Homo sapiens: one gene and its partners. The protein of the gene in region 3 purifies or fractionates together with the protein of the main gene of each other region. This does not show direct contact. Each region holds a gene or a part of one and is shown on either strand. Other genes may lie near its edges. The genes, in order: RBM6, MYH1 and TMEM45A.

Region 1 (3,656 bases), about 50 Mb from region 3:
GGCCAGGAGTTCGAGACCAGCCTGGCCAACATGGCAAAACTCTGTCTCTACTAAAAACACAAAAATTAGCTGGGTATGGTGGTATGCACCTGTAATCCCAGCTACTCAGGAGGTTGGGGTGGGAGAATTGCTTGAACCTGGGAGGAGGAGGTTGCAGTGAGCTGAGATCGCACCACTGCATTCCAGCCTGGGCGACAGAGCAAGACTCTGTCTCAAAAAAAAAAAAAGAAAAGAATCTTTCATTATTAAACAAATACCCAAGATGAATTAAGGTGGGTGGTGATGCTATGATTGCAAGATACAGGCTTTAATACCAGAGATATGAGAAACTCGGTAGGAGAGAAATAAGCCAATCTCTTATGGTTGGCATTTTCAGAGGAGAAGCAAGCCAACACAAAATGGGTAATGTTTCCTCTTATCACCTTTTCTAGAGGCTCTTGAAATATGAGGGGCAAAGTCCTTCATGGGAACCAGAACAACATGCTCCTTAAATTTTAGCCACCAAAGACTTCCGCTGACAGTCCCTCTCAGAGATGCCTCTGTACCTTTCATTGCTGATTCCCTGGTTCTTTTGCCCAAATGATTCTTCAGTCTCAAACTGCCTCAGATACTGCTCTACTATTTACTCCATGTAAAAGTATGATGAAATCCATTCCAACTCCTTCCTTCTCTTCCTAACTCCAAACTGCAAAGGGCCCAGCCTGCCAAGCTATAACCCAGTATTCAAGGCTAAAGTGTTCAACTCTCATGTCCTATCCCAGCAGTAGAGAAAGCCCAGCAAAATGGCAAAGACATCACTCTAGGCCAGAAAGTGAAAGTTAATTACATTCCAGGTTCATGTCACCCCCCAAAAGATGGAAACCATTTTACCTCCTCTGATGAAGCCAATCCAGGATGGCCATATCCCAGGCCTGTCCCTTTCCTCCAGCCAGTAGCCTGTTGGACACAGCCTCCTTTGCTGCTAGTGTCGATATCTTCTTTATCAACAAGTTTACGATCACTGCAAAAGAAGCAGACACCATCACTTCCTTTTTTTTTTTTTTTGAGACGGAGTTTCACTCTTTTTGCCCAGGCTGGAGTGCAATGGCTCGAACTCAGCTTACTGCAACCTCTGCCTCCTGGGTTCAGGCGATTCTCCTGCCTCAGCCTCCCGATTAGCTGGGATTGCAGGTGCCCGCCACCACACCTGGCTAATTTTTAATTTTTTTTTTTTTCAGTAGAGACAGAGTTTCACTGTGTTGGCCAGGCTGCTCTCAAACTCCTGACCTCAGGTAATCCGCATGCCTTGGCCTCCCAAAGTGCTGGATTACAGGCATGAGCCACCATGCCCAACCTGACACCATCATTTTGATGAAGACCTGCTTATAAGCCTAATATAAAATCTCTGTCCTCTTGATTCATATCTGCCTCTTATTAAGTAAGTATATTTAACAGTACCTCTGAGTGCCTGATAGCTATGTTTTGTTGCTGGGTACACAGACTACTAAGATATGGCCCTGTTCACAAGAAAGGTCTCAAACATTATGTCAAGAGATGCTTATAGAACATTGAAGAGAGCTCAACCATGGATGTAGCAACAGTAGATGTCTGCTATAGAAATACAGTAGAAGGAATCACTTTGGGAGGCTGAGGTGGGCAGATCACCTGAGGTTGGGAGTTCGTGACCAGCCTGACCAACATGGAGAAACCCTGTCTCTACTAAAAATACAAAATTAGCCGGGTGTGGTGGCGCATGCCTGTAATCCTAGCTACTCGGGAGGCTGAGGCAGGAGAATCGCTTGAACCCAGGAGGTGGAGGTTGTGGTTAGCTGATATCGCGCCATTGCACTCCAGCCTGGGCAACAAGAGTGAAACTCTGTTTCAAAAAAAAAAAAGAAATGCAGTAGAAGGAACGAAAACTCTGAAGGGGCATCACCAAAAATGACAGGAATTTCAACAGGAAGATACATCTGAATTGGATCTCGAAATAAGGAGTTTGTGTAAGAGAAAAGGAGGACACAAGCAAGGAGACACAAAAGACAATTTGTCCAAGAGAGTAGTAGTAGAAACTGACAAAGGTAAGGCTGCTTGGTGGCCGGGTGCAGTGACTCACGCCTGTAATCCCAGCACTTTGGGAGGCCAAGGCGGGTGGATCACCTGAGGTCAGGAGTTCGAGACCACCCTGACCAACAGGTGAAACCCCTCTCTACTAAAAATACAAACATTAGCCCATAGTCCCAGCTACTGGGGAGGCTGAGGCAGGAGAATCGCTTGAACCTGGGAGGCGGAGGTTGCAGTGAGCCAAGATCGTGCCATTGCACTCCAGCCTGGGCGACAGAATGAGACTGTCTCAAAACAAAAGGAAAAAAAAAAAAGGCTGCATGGGGTCAGACTGTAAAAAACCTTGAACTTATTAAGCTAAATCATGTCTCTGAACCTCATCCTTCTGGCAAAAGTTGGAGCTCAGGCCTCCCTGTAGGCAAGGTATACGGTTTGTAAAAAGACAAGTTATAAGAGTAGATTTCTCTTTACAAAAGTCATTTTGGTGGCAGGGTAGAGAATGGACTGAAGAACAGTGGGAGCAAAGACTGGGAGTAGGAGTCCAGTGTGGAGGTGGAATAGAATGGGAGATGCTGTGGTTTAAATGTGTCCCTCAAAGTACATATGTTGGAAACATAATCCCCAATGCAACAGTATTGAGAGGTGAAACTTCAGGAAGTGATTAGGTCATGAGAGCTCTGCCCTCACAAATGGATTAATGCTGTTATTGCAGGAGTGGGTTCTCCTGATAAAATGATTAGTCTGGTTTCTTTCTCCCAACCCCCTCTTTTGCCTAAGCTCTCTTGTTCTTTTACTTTCCACCATGAGGTGACACAGCAAGAAGGCCCTCACCAGATGCAGCTCCTCAATCTTGGACCTCCCAGCCTCCAGAAGCATGAGCCAAATAAATTTCTGTTCATTATAAATTACCCAGTCTGTGGTATTCAGTTATGGTATCATAAAACAGACTAAGACAGGGGGCAAGACTTAATTAGGGATTTGGTCACTAATTGGACACAGGGGATAAAGGAGGAGGATGGATCAGACCATGTAGACAGTGATGCTATGATGCTGCTACTCTGAAATAATAATACAGGAGATTTGGACTTGTTAGACTGTGGTGGTGGTTGAGGCCATGGGTACCTTAGAAAGCCCAGGTCAAGAGGGTAGAGCAGCAAGACCAAAGAAGCACTGAGAGAAGAGTCCTAGAGAACACCTGGATTTATCCAGAAAAGGAAGAGGAGCAGAAAAGGTGACTGGAAAGGAGAAGAGCCAGGAGAATGTGGTATAAAGGGTGCTGAGAATAAAGAAGGGTCTCTTTCCGCACCCCACCTAAGCCTTGTCCCAGAAGACTCAAGGCCAAGGTGTCCTTCCTCCTGATGGCTGACTCCTTCACCTAGTCCTAATCCACTGTATTTCAAATTGCAGAGAATGACCCAATGGAATGTCACACTAAATGGTCCCACTGTAACAACTCATAAAAATGAAGAGAGACTAGACTTGAATAAAAATATCAGGGTTCACTGTACCTGGTAAGAAAGTATTTTAGATGAAAACTTTTTCAGTTGTGCACACACACACTTTATTATTGGGCCATGATACAAAAATACTTCTCTTATTGTGGGTTGGATCAAATA
Region 2 (3,656 bases), on a different chromosome or scaffold from region 3:
TGGTCTCCTTGCTTGGAAACACACAATTTATTTTATATATTTAAGTAATAAGAGCCAAGATTAAGTAACAACTGAATCATATAAATCATGTATTATCTGAATAGAAATGAAAAATAGGAGTTCAATCCTTTTGGTGCCTCAGTTTCTTGTTAATTATAAATTAGATTCTTTTACAAGTACTGTCATCTCTTTAAAGTTATCAGAGTACATCTCAGATATAATATCCTCTGTTTGAATGAAGATGATGTTTTGGGGCTACACACATATAAACAGAAATTGTTTTCCCCCCTTAGAAAGATTTTATTTTGATTGAGGCATCCTCTCTTACCTCATCTTTCTTTAACACAATGGTACACTTTGGGGAAGGCTGATCGAAGTTAGGGCTATATTGAAGTTAGTCTGTGGCCATAAGATAGTAAATTTTTTCTCTTTGTGAAGTCATCTGACACATTTAGAAACAAAATCTCAGTCATGGCTTGATTAACACTATTTCAATCTATTAAATAATAGTCCAAGCCTTTAGCATATTATGCATTTTTCAGCTATATGCATTAATTAGCAGATAGCATGCCATTGAAATCTACAGATGACAACTACGGAATGTATCTAGCTTTGGAGAATACTGCTCTTTATATTAAACCAGCAGGACACACCCATAACTTTACCATAATATATTGAAAAACCCCACTGAATACATGACACTTATACTCAAATGCCCTGTTTCACTATAGAAAGTTTTGTTTGTGTAACTGATACATATGCTGATTTTCCACTGTTTTTCTTCTAGATCGGGAGAATCAGTCTATCTTGATCACGTATGTATTCCTATTCTGAGATTTATTGGCAGTTTGTTCTTACTGGAAAAATGACAAACCAAAAAAAGAAATTAGTTAATGTTCTCTACTAAAGCACTGAATGATCAACCTGGAACTAGATATTGGTTTAGCTTTATTATAAGGTTTACATTGCATTAGAATGTAAAATAATAATGTTCTAAATCACCTCATTTGCTGGTCTTGAAAGTTCCACAGAACTTTTTGGTGTGTAGAAAGTGTAAAATGAGCTGGGCTGGAACCCAGTATAGTGCAATGAGCAGCATACAGCCTTCAAAAGGTACAACAGTTTGGAAATACTACTAGTGGTTCATTTTTAAGGCCCACTTAGAGAATGTCTGTTCCTTCAAAGACCAAACTTGAGCCATGTCTCTAGTCCGAGGAAATGGAAAAACACATGCACGTTTCATAGAGTTTCCTACTAATTGTTCCATTCACTACAGAGGTGCTGAGTAGCTGCTTTTCAGACCCCTCAAGCCCAGGCCTCAGCACCCAGAAAAAAAGCTGACACATTATAAACACTCAAGAAATACGTGTTAAATGAACAATGACTGATTTTTTCTACTTCTTGCCAGTGCAAAGCAAAAGAAATAATACGAGCTATATGTAGGCTGAAAAGAAAGATGTAAAAGGCTCTCTAATAGAGATATAAAGACAAAGCCATGAGGTAGTTGTAGTTTCATTTGTCACAGTGCTTAATTTCTCATACGTTTGGTCTTTGACAGCGGAGAATCTGGCGCAGGGAAGACTGTGAACACCAAGCGTGTCATCCAGTACTTTGCAACAATTGCAGTTACTGGGGAGAAGAAGAAGGAAGAAGTTACTTCTGGCAAAATGCAGGTGAGTCTGATTGTTAGTCAGAATCCAGGCTCTGTCGGGACTCTCAGGTAGGAAATTCCCAAGCCCCAGATGCAAGGACTGCTCTTGCCTTTGCAGGGGACTCTGGAAGATCAAATCATCAGTGCCAACCCCCTACTGGAGGCCTTTGGCAACGCCAAGACCGTGAGGAATGACAACTCCTCTCGCTTTGTAAGTCTCTTGGTTGCCAAAGGGTCTTCTCTGCCTTTAGATGCCAGAGAAAGCATGTCTGAATTATTTCAGTGGCATCCCCACTACGTACTTCAAGCTTTGGGTATAACATCATTTTTTTTACTTACAAGGGTAAATTCATCAGGATCCACTTCGGTACCACAGGGAAACTGGCTTCTGCTGATATTGAAACATGTGAGTAACAGGACCTCCTAAATAGAATCCAAGAATGACAAATATTGGTTTGGAGGAACACTTTGCAGCTCCTGCTGAACATGGAGCTTGTAAAGCACCAGTCTGCTGCCAAACATGCTTGTGGTTAATGTCAGTCTTATCCATAGCCCACAGTATGCTTTACCCACTCCAGTCATGAGGTAATGCTTCTGTGGGAACTGCCAGGAACTGCTGGGCATGTCCAAAGTATTCCAGCCTCAGAATGATTTCAATTTTTTTTTTAAGAAAAAACTAACACTAGAAGTAAACAAGTTGTCCAGGGATTGAGGATATGTGATTTATTCCTAGTCTGAGCTTTAATACTGTTGCTTTTAGTAGTCCCTCTATTATATGGCGACAGGACCCTGCAGAGGGAGTCTCAGGACTCAATTATATTCCAAATGTCAAGGATCTTCTGTATGAGAAGTGAATATCTTGAGCCAAGCATATTTCACTTTTTTCCCAGGAGGCAGGAGGAACTGCAATAGTGTTTGTAGAGACATAATATGTGGTACTTCACAGGAACATTCAGTTGAAATCTCAAGAGGCCAGTGAGATTTAGCTAATGATCCCAAGTCCTCAAATCACTCCAGGACATTGTGTAATTTTTCCCCATAATCTGATGTCTACTATCCGTTGCAGATCTTCTGGAGAAGTCTAGAGTTACTTTCCAGCTAAAGGCTGAAAGAAGCTATCATATTTTTTATCAGATCATGTCTAACAAGAAGCCAGATCTAATTGGTAAGAAATAAATTCATAGCTAGAAGATTGTCACTGTACTATCTTCTAATGTAAAACATATGCCCTGAATTCTGTGACCCAGAAATGCTCCTGATCACCACCAACCCATACGATTATGCCTTCGTCAGTCAAGGGGAGATCACAGTGCCCAGCATTGATGACCAAGAAGAGTTGATGGCTACAGATGTAAGTTATACATGAATTTTAATTTAAAATCCATTATGCATGGGAATGGCAATAACAGCCATCTATATGTGTGTAAAAGATACAGTATAAATTCTCTTGTGCCCTAATCTTTGTCTTCTCATCTCTCATGGTAGAGTGCCATTGAAATTCTGGGCTTTACTTCAGATGAAAGAGTGTCCATCTATAAGCTCACAGGGGCTGTGATGCATTATGGGAACATGAAATTCAAGCAAAAGCAGCGTGAGGAGCAAGCTGAGCCAGATGGCACTGAAGGTACCAAATGAATCTCCATCTGGGTTTAATGAGAGAATATAGGCAAAAATGTCCATTCCAAAATTCAAGTCTTCTTTACAGCTGAGCTCCTGATGGACATACTCAGATGTACCCACACACAGACTTTCTACAAAGTTATTTACTCAATACTATGCCCCTTTGAACTGTGGGTCCCAGAGTAAGTCATATTAGGTATCTGAATTATGTTTCTGCAGTTGCTGACAAGGCAGCCTATCTCCAAAATCTGAACTCTGCAGATCTGCTCAAAGCCCTCTGCTACCCTAGGGTCAAGGTCGGCAATGAGTATGTCACCAAAGGTCAAACTGTGCAGCAGGTAAGTGCATGACCTCAATGAATCACACACATCCCAGGCCTTCATGA
Region 3 (3,656 bases):
TTTTTGTGTTTGCAGATAATGTTCTGCTATGCTACCCTGTCTTATGGGATGATAAGGAATGAAATACCCTTTTGAATTTTAAATTCAATACCACTGAGTCTTGATAATCACATACCAAGGAACAGAACTTCCATTAACAGAAATCGCTAACTTACCAGGTAATGAAAGCATAATTCATTCCAACGATGACAATGGTTACTGCATAATGCCAACAAAAGCATATGGTGAGAAACAAAATATTTTCATGATCCATCAGATCCCATGCAGGACCTCCACTGGGGGGATACAGGACAAATCCAATCTGTAATTTAGAACAAAAAGCATATATTAAAATAACCAATCACATTCCCAAAAATGGTACATTTCAAAATACTTGCTTCCGAGGTAAATAACTAAGTTAACTCCAATTATCTAAGATGTAACAGATAAAACATCAGGTTTTGCTGCCTGTTTTAGTAATATAGAGAGTCTCTAATATGTCATATTTTCATAAAAGTTTTAAAAGGACATTTAATGATCAGTTTTCAAAATATAAACAGTCATCTTGCTAGGAATGTCTGGACTTTAAGAGAATGTCTTGGGTTTCTACATTGTGCAGTTTCACTCTGTTATTTCAAAATTGGAGTACAAAAAGGTTTTAAAATAAATAAATGCCCACAGTTAACATTATATTTAATGGTAAAAGACTGAAATCTTTCCCCCTAATATCAGGAACGAGACATGGATGTCTGCTTTCACACTTCTATTGAATGTTGTACTGAAAATCTTAGCTAGAGCAATTAAGTTAAGATTTAGCTAGAGTAATTAAGCCGTTAAGAAAAATAAAAGGCATCCATACTGGAAAGAAAGAGGCAAAAATATCTACATTCACAGATGACATGATCTTATATATAGAAATTCCTTTAAAAATCCATTAGAAAACTATTAGGGCTAATAAATGAGTTCAGCATAATAGCAGGATACAAAATCAATATACAAAACAGTTGTATTTCTGTACAAAAGCAATGAACTCAAAAATAAAATTAAGAAAACAGTTCTGGCCAGGCGTGGTGGCTCACGCCTGTAATCTCAGCACTTTGGGAGGCCGAGGTGGGTGGATCATGAGGTCAGGAGATCGAGACCATCCTGGCTAACACGGTGAAACCCCATCTCTACTAAACATACAAAAAAATTAGCCAGGCATGGTGGCAGGCACCTGTAGTCCCAGCTACTCGGGAGGCTGAGGCAGGAGAATGGCGTGAACCCAGGAGGCGGAGCTTGCAGTGAGCCGAGATTGTGCCACTGCTCTCCAGCCTGGGCGACAGAGCAAGTCTCCGTCTCAAAAAAAAGAAAAAGAAAAAGAAGACAGTTCCATCTACAATAGCATTAAAAAGAATAAAATACTTTAAGAATAAATTTAATCAAGGAGGTTTAAGACTTGTACACCAAAATCTGCATAACATTGTTGAAAGAAATCAAAGATCTAAATAAATGGAAAGCTATCTCATAGTCATAGACTGGAAGCTTAATACTGTTGAGCTGGCAATACCACCCAAAGCAATCTACAGATTCAATGCAATTGCCATCAAAATTCCAATGTTCTTTTTTTTTTTTTTTTTTTTTTTGCAGAAATGGTAAAAGCTGATCCTGTAACTCATATGGAATTGCAAGGGATCCAGAATAACCAAAACAACCTTAAAAAAGAAAGCTGGAGGACTTCAATACTACAGAGCTACAGTAATCAAAACAACAGTGTGATACTGGCATAATGATAAACATTTAGATCAATGAAATAAAATTGAGAGTCCAGAAATAAACTCATATGTCTGAGGTCAATTGGTTTTTGACAAGGGTGCCAAAGCCATTCAATGGGGAAAGAACAGTCTTCAACAAATGGTGCTGAGATAACCGGGTATTCACATGAAAAAAAATGAATTTGGACCCCTACCTCATATATAAAATTAACTCATGTATAAAATTATATATATATAAAATGAACTCAAAATGGATTAAAGACCTAAATATGAGAGCTAAAACCACAAAATTCCTAAAAGAAAATAGGGAGAAATCTTCATCACTTGAAATTTGTTGATTTTTTTTAAGCTACGACACCAAAAGCACCATCAACCAAAGAAGAAAACAGATAAATTGGACTTCATCAAAATTAACTTTTGTGCTTCAAAGGACACTATTAAGAAAATGAAAAGACAACTCACAGCATGAGAGAAAATATTTGCAAATCATATATCCGATGAGATTATATCTAGAATATAAAAAGAATTCCTAAAACTTAACAACAACAAAAAATTTTAATGGGCAAAGGACTTCAAGAAACATTTCCCCAAAGCAAATATACAAATGGTCAATAAGCACATGAAAAGATTATGGATATCATTGTTCATCAGGGGAATGCAAATCAAAACCACAATGAGATACCATTTTTTATTCATTAGGCTGGCAATAATAACAATAAAAATAACAAATATTGGTGAGGATATGGAGAAATTGAAATCCTTATATATTGCTGATGGGAATGTAAAATGGATAATCTTGATTATCTGGATAATGAAGATAATAATACATGAAAATGAGGATAATAATATATCCTCAAAAAGGGCCATTGCAAGGAAAGGCCTAAGCACTGTAACTGACACATAGCCAATAAATGGTAGACATTTGTAGGAGTATCCATGATATTATCTTGGTTTTGAATTTCATTTAGTTCTAGAAACCTGAAATACATTCATCCATTTATCTATCTATCTAATTTTTTATTGGGATAAAATTCTGCAGCTACTGTGGCAACCGTTTTGCAATTCCTCAGGAAGTTAAATATAGAATTCCATATGACCTGGCAATTTCACTTCTACCCAAAAGAACTAAAAATAGGTATTCAAACAAAACTTGTACATGAGTGTTCATAGTAGAACTATTAATAATAGTCAAAAGATGAAAACAACCCAAATATTCAAAAACTGATATGGATAAGCAAAATGCAGTATACTCATACAAGGGACTATCAATCGACCATAAAAGGAATGAAGTACATGCAACAACATGGATGAAACTTGAAAACATTTATACTAAGTAAAAGAAGCCAGACACAAAAGTTCACATATATTATGATTCTGATTACATAAAATATCTAGACTAGACAAATATTCATAGAGACAGAAAGCAGACCAGTGGTACCGGGGGCTAGGAGGAGAGACGGGAGAGTGACTATTTTATGGGCCCAAGGTTTCCTTTCGGGGTGATGAAAATGTTTTGGAACAGATAGAGCTGATGGGGGCACAACATTGTGAATATACTAAATGCCACTAAATTGTACACTTTAAAAATATTAATGTTATGTTAGGAAAGTTTTATCCCAATAAACAATAAGTAGATAGAGAGATAATAGATAACTGGATGAATGTATTGCAGGTTTCTGGAACTAAATGAAATTCAAAACCAGGATAATATAATGAATAATCCTACAAATGTCTACCATGTATTGGCTATGTGTCAGTTACAGTGTTTAGGTGTCTCCTTGCAATGGCCCTTTTCAAGGATGTATTATTACCCTCATTTTAATGTATTATTATCCTTATTATCTCGATAATAAAATCGGGTGATTTAGTGATTTGCCCATGATTACACGTCTAATAAATGAAAGGTTACAAGAAAAAAAAACA

The links.
Region 1: the proteins of TMEM45A (region 3) and RBM6 purify together in Homo sapiens (affinity purification with mass spectrometry; one large-scale study listed by BioGRID and IntAct). This does not show direct contact.
Region 2: the proteins of TMEM45A (region 3) and MYH1 purify together in Homo sapiens (affinity purification with mass spectrometry; one large-scale study listed by BioGRID and IntAct). This does not show direct contact.

The regions. Positions count from the first base shown.
Region 1 is NC_000003.12:50,072,545-50,076,200, reverse strand, and holds part of RBM6 (RNA-binding protein 6), read right to left. Parts: intron 1,029-3,656; coding exon of another isoform or gene 1,022-1,028; exon of another isoform or gene 1,007-1,021; intron 1,001-1,006; coding exon 871-1,000; intron 1-870. UniProt on the Homo sapiens protein: Specifically binds poly(G) RNA homopolymers in vitro.
Region 2 is NC_000017.11:10,512,027-10,515,682, reverse strand, and holds part of MYH1 (myosin-1), read left to right. Parts: intron 1-787; coding exon 788-815; intron 816-1,558; coding exon 1,559-1,673; intron 1,674-1,769; coding exon 1,770-1,862; intron 1,863-1,993; coding exon 1,994-2,057; intron 2,058-2,717; coding exon 2,718-2,816; intron 2,817-2,898; coding exon 2,899-3,002; intron 3,003-3,136; coding exon 3,137-3,275; intron 3,276-3,490; coding exon 3,491-3,609; intron 3,610-3,656. UniProt on the Homo sapiens protein: Required for normal hearing. It plays a role in cochlear amplification of auditory stimuli, likely through the positive regulation of prestin (SLC26A5) activity and outer hair cell (OHC) electromotility.
Region 3 is NC_000003.12:100,565,467-100,569,122, reverse strand, and holds part of TMEM45A (transmembrane protein 45A), read right to left. Parts: intron 302-3,656; coding exon 156-301; intron 1-155.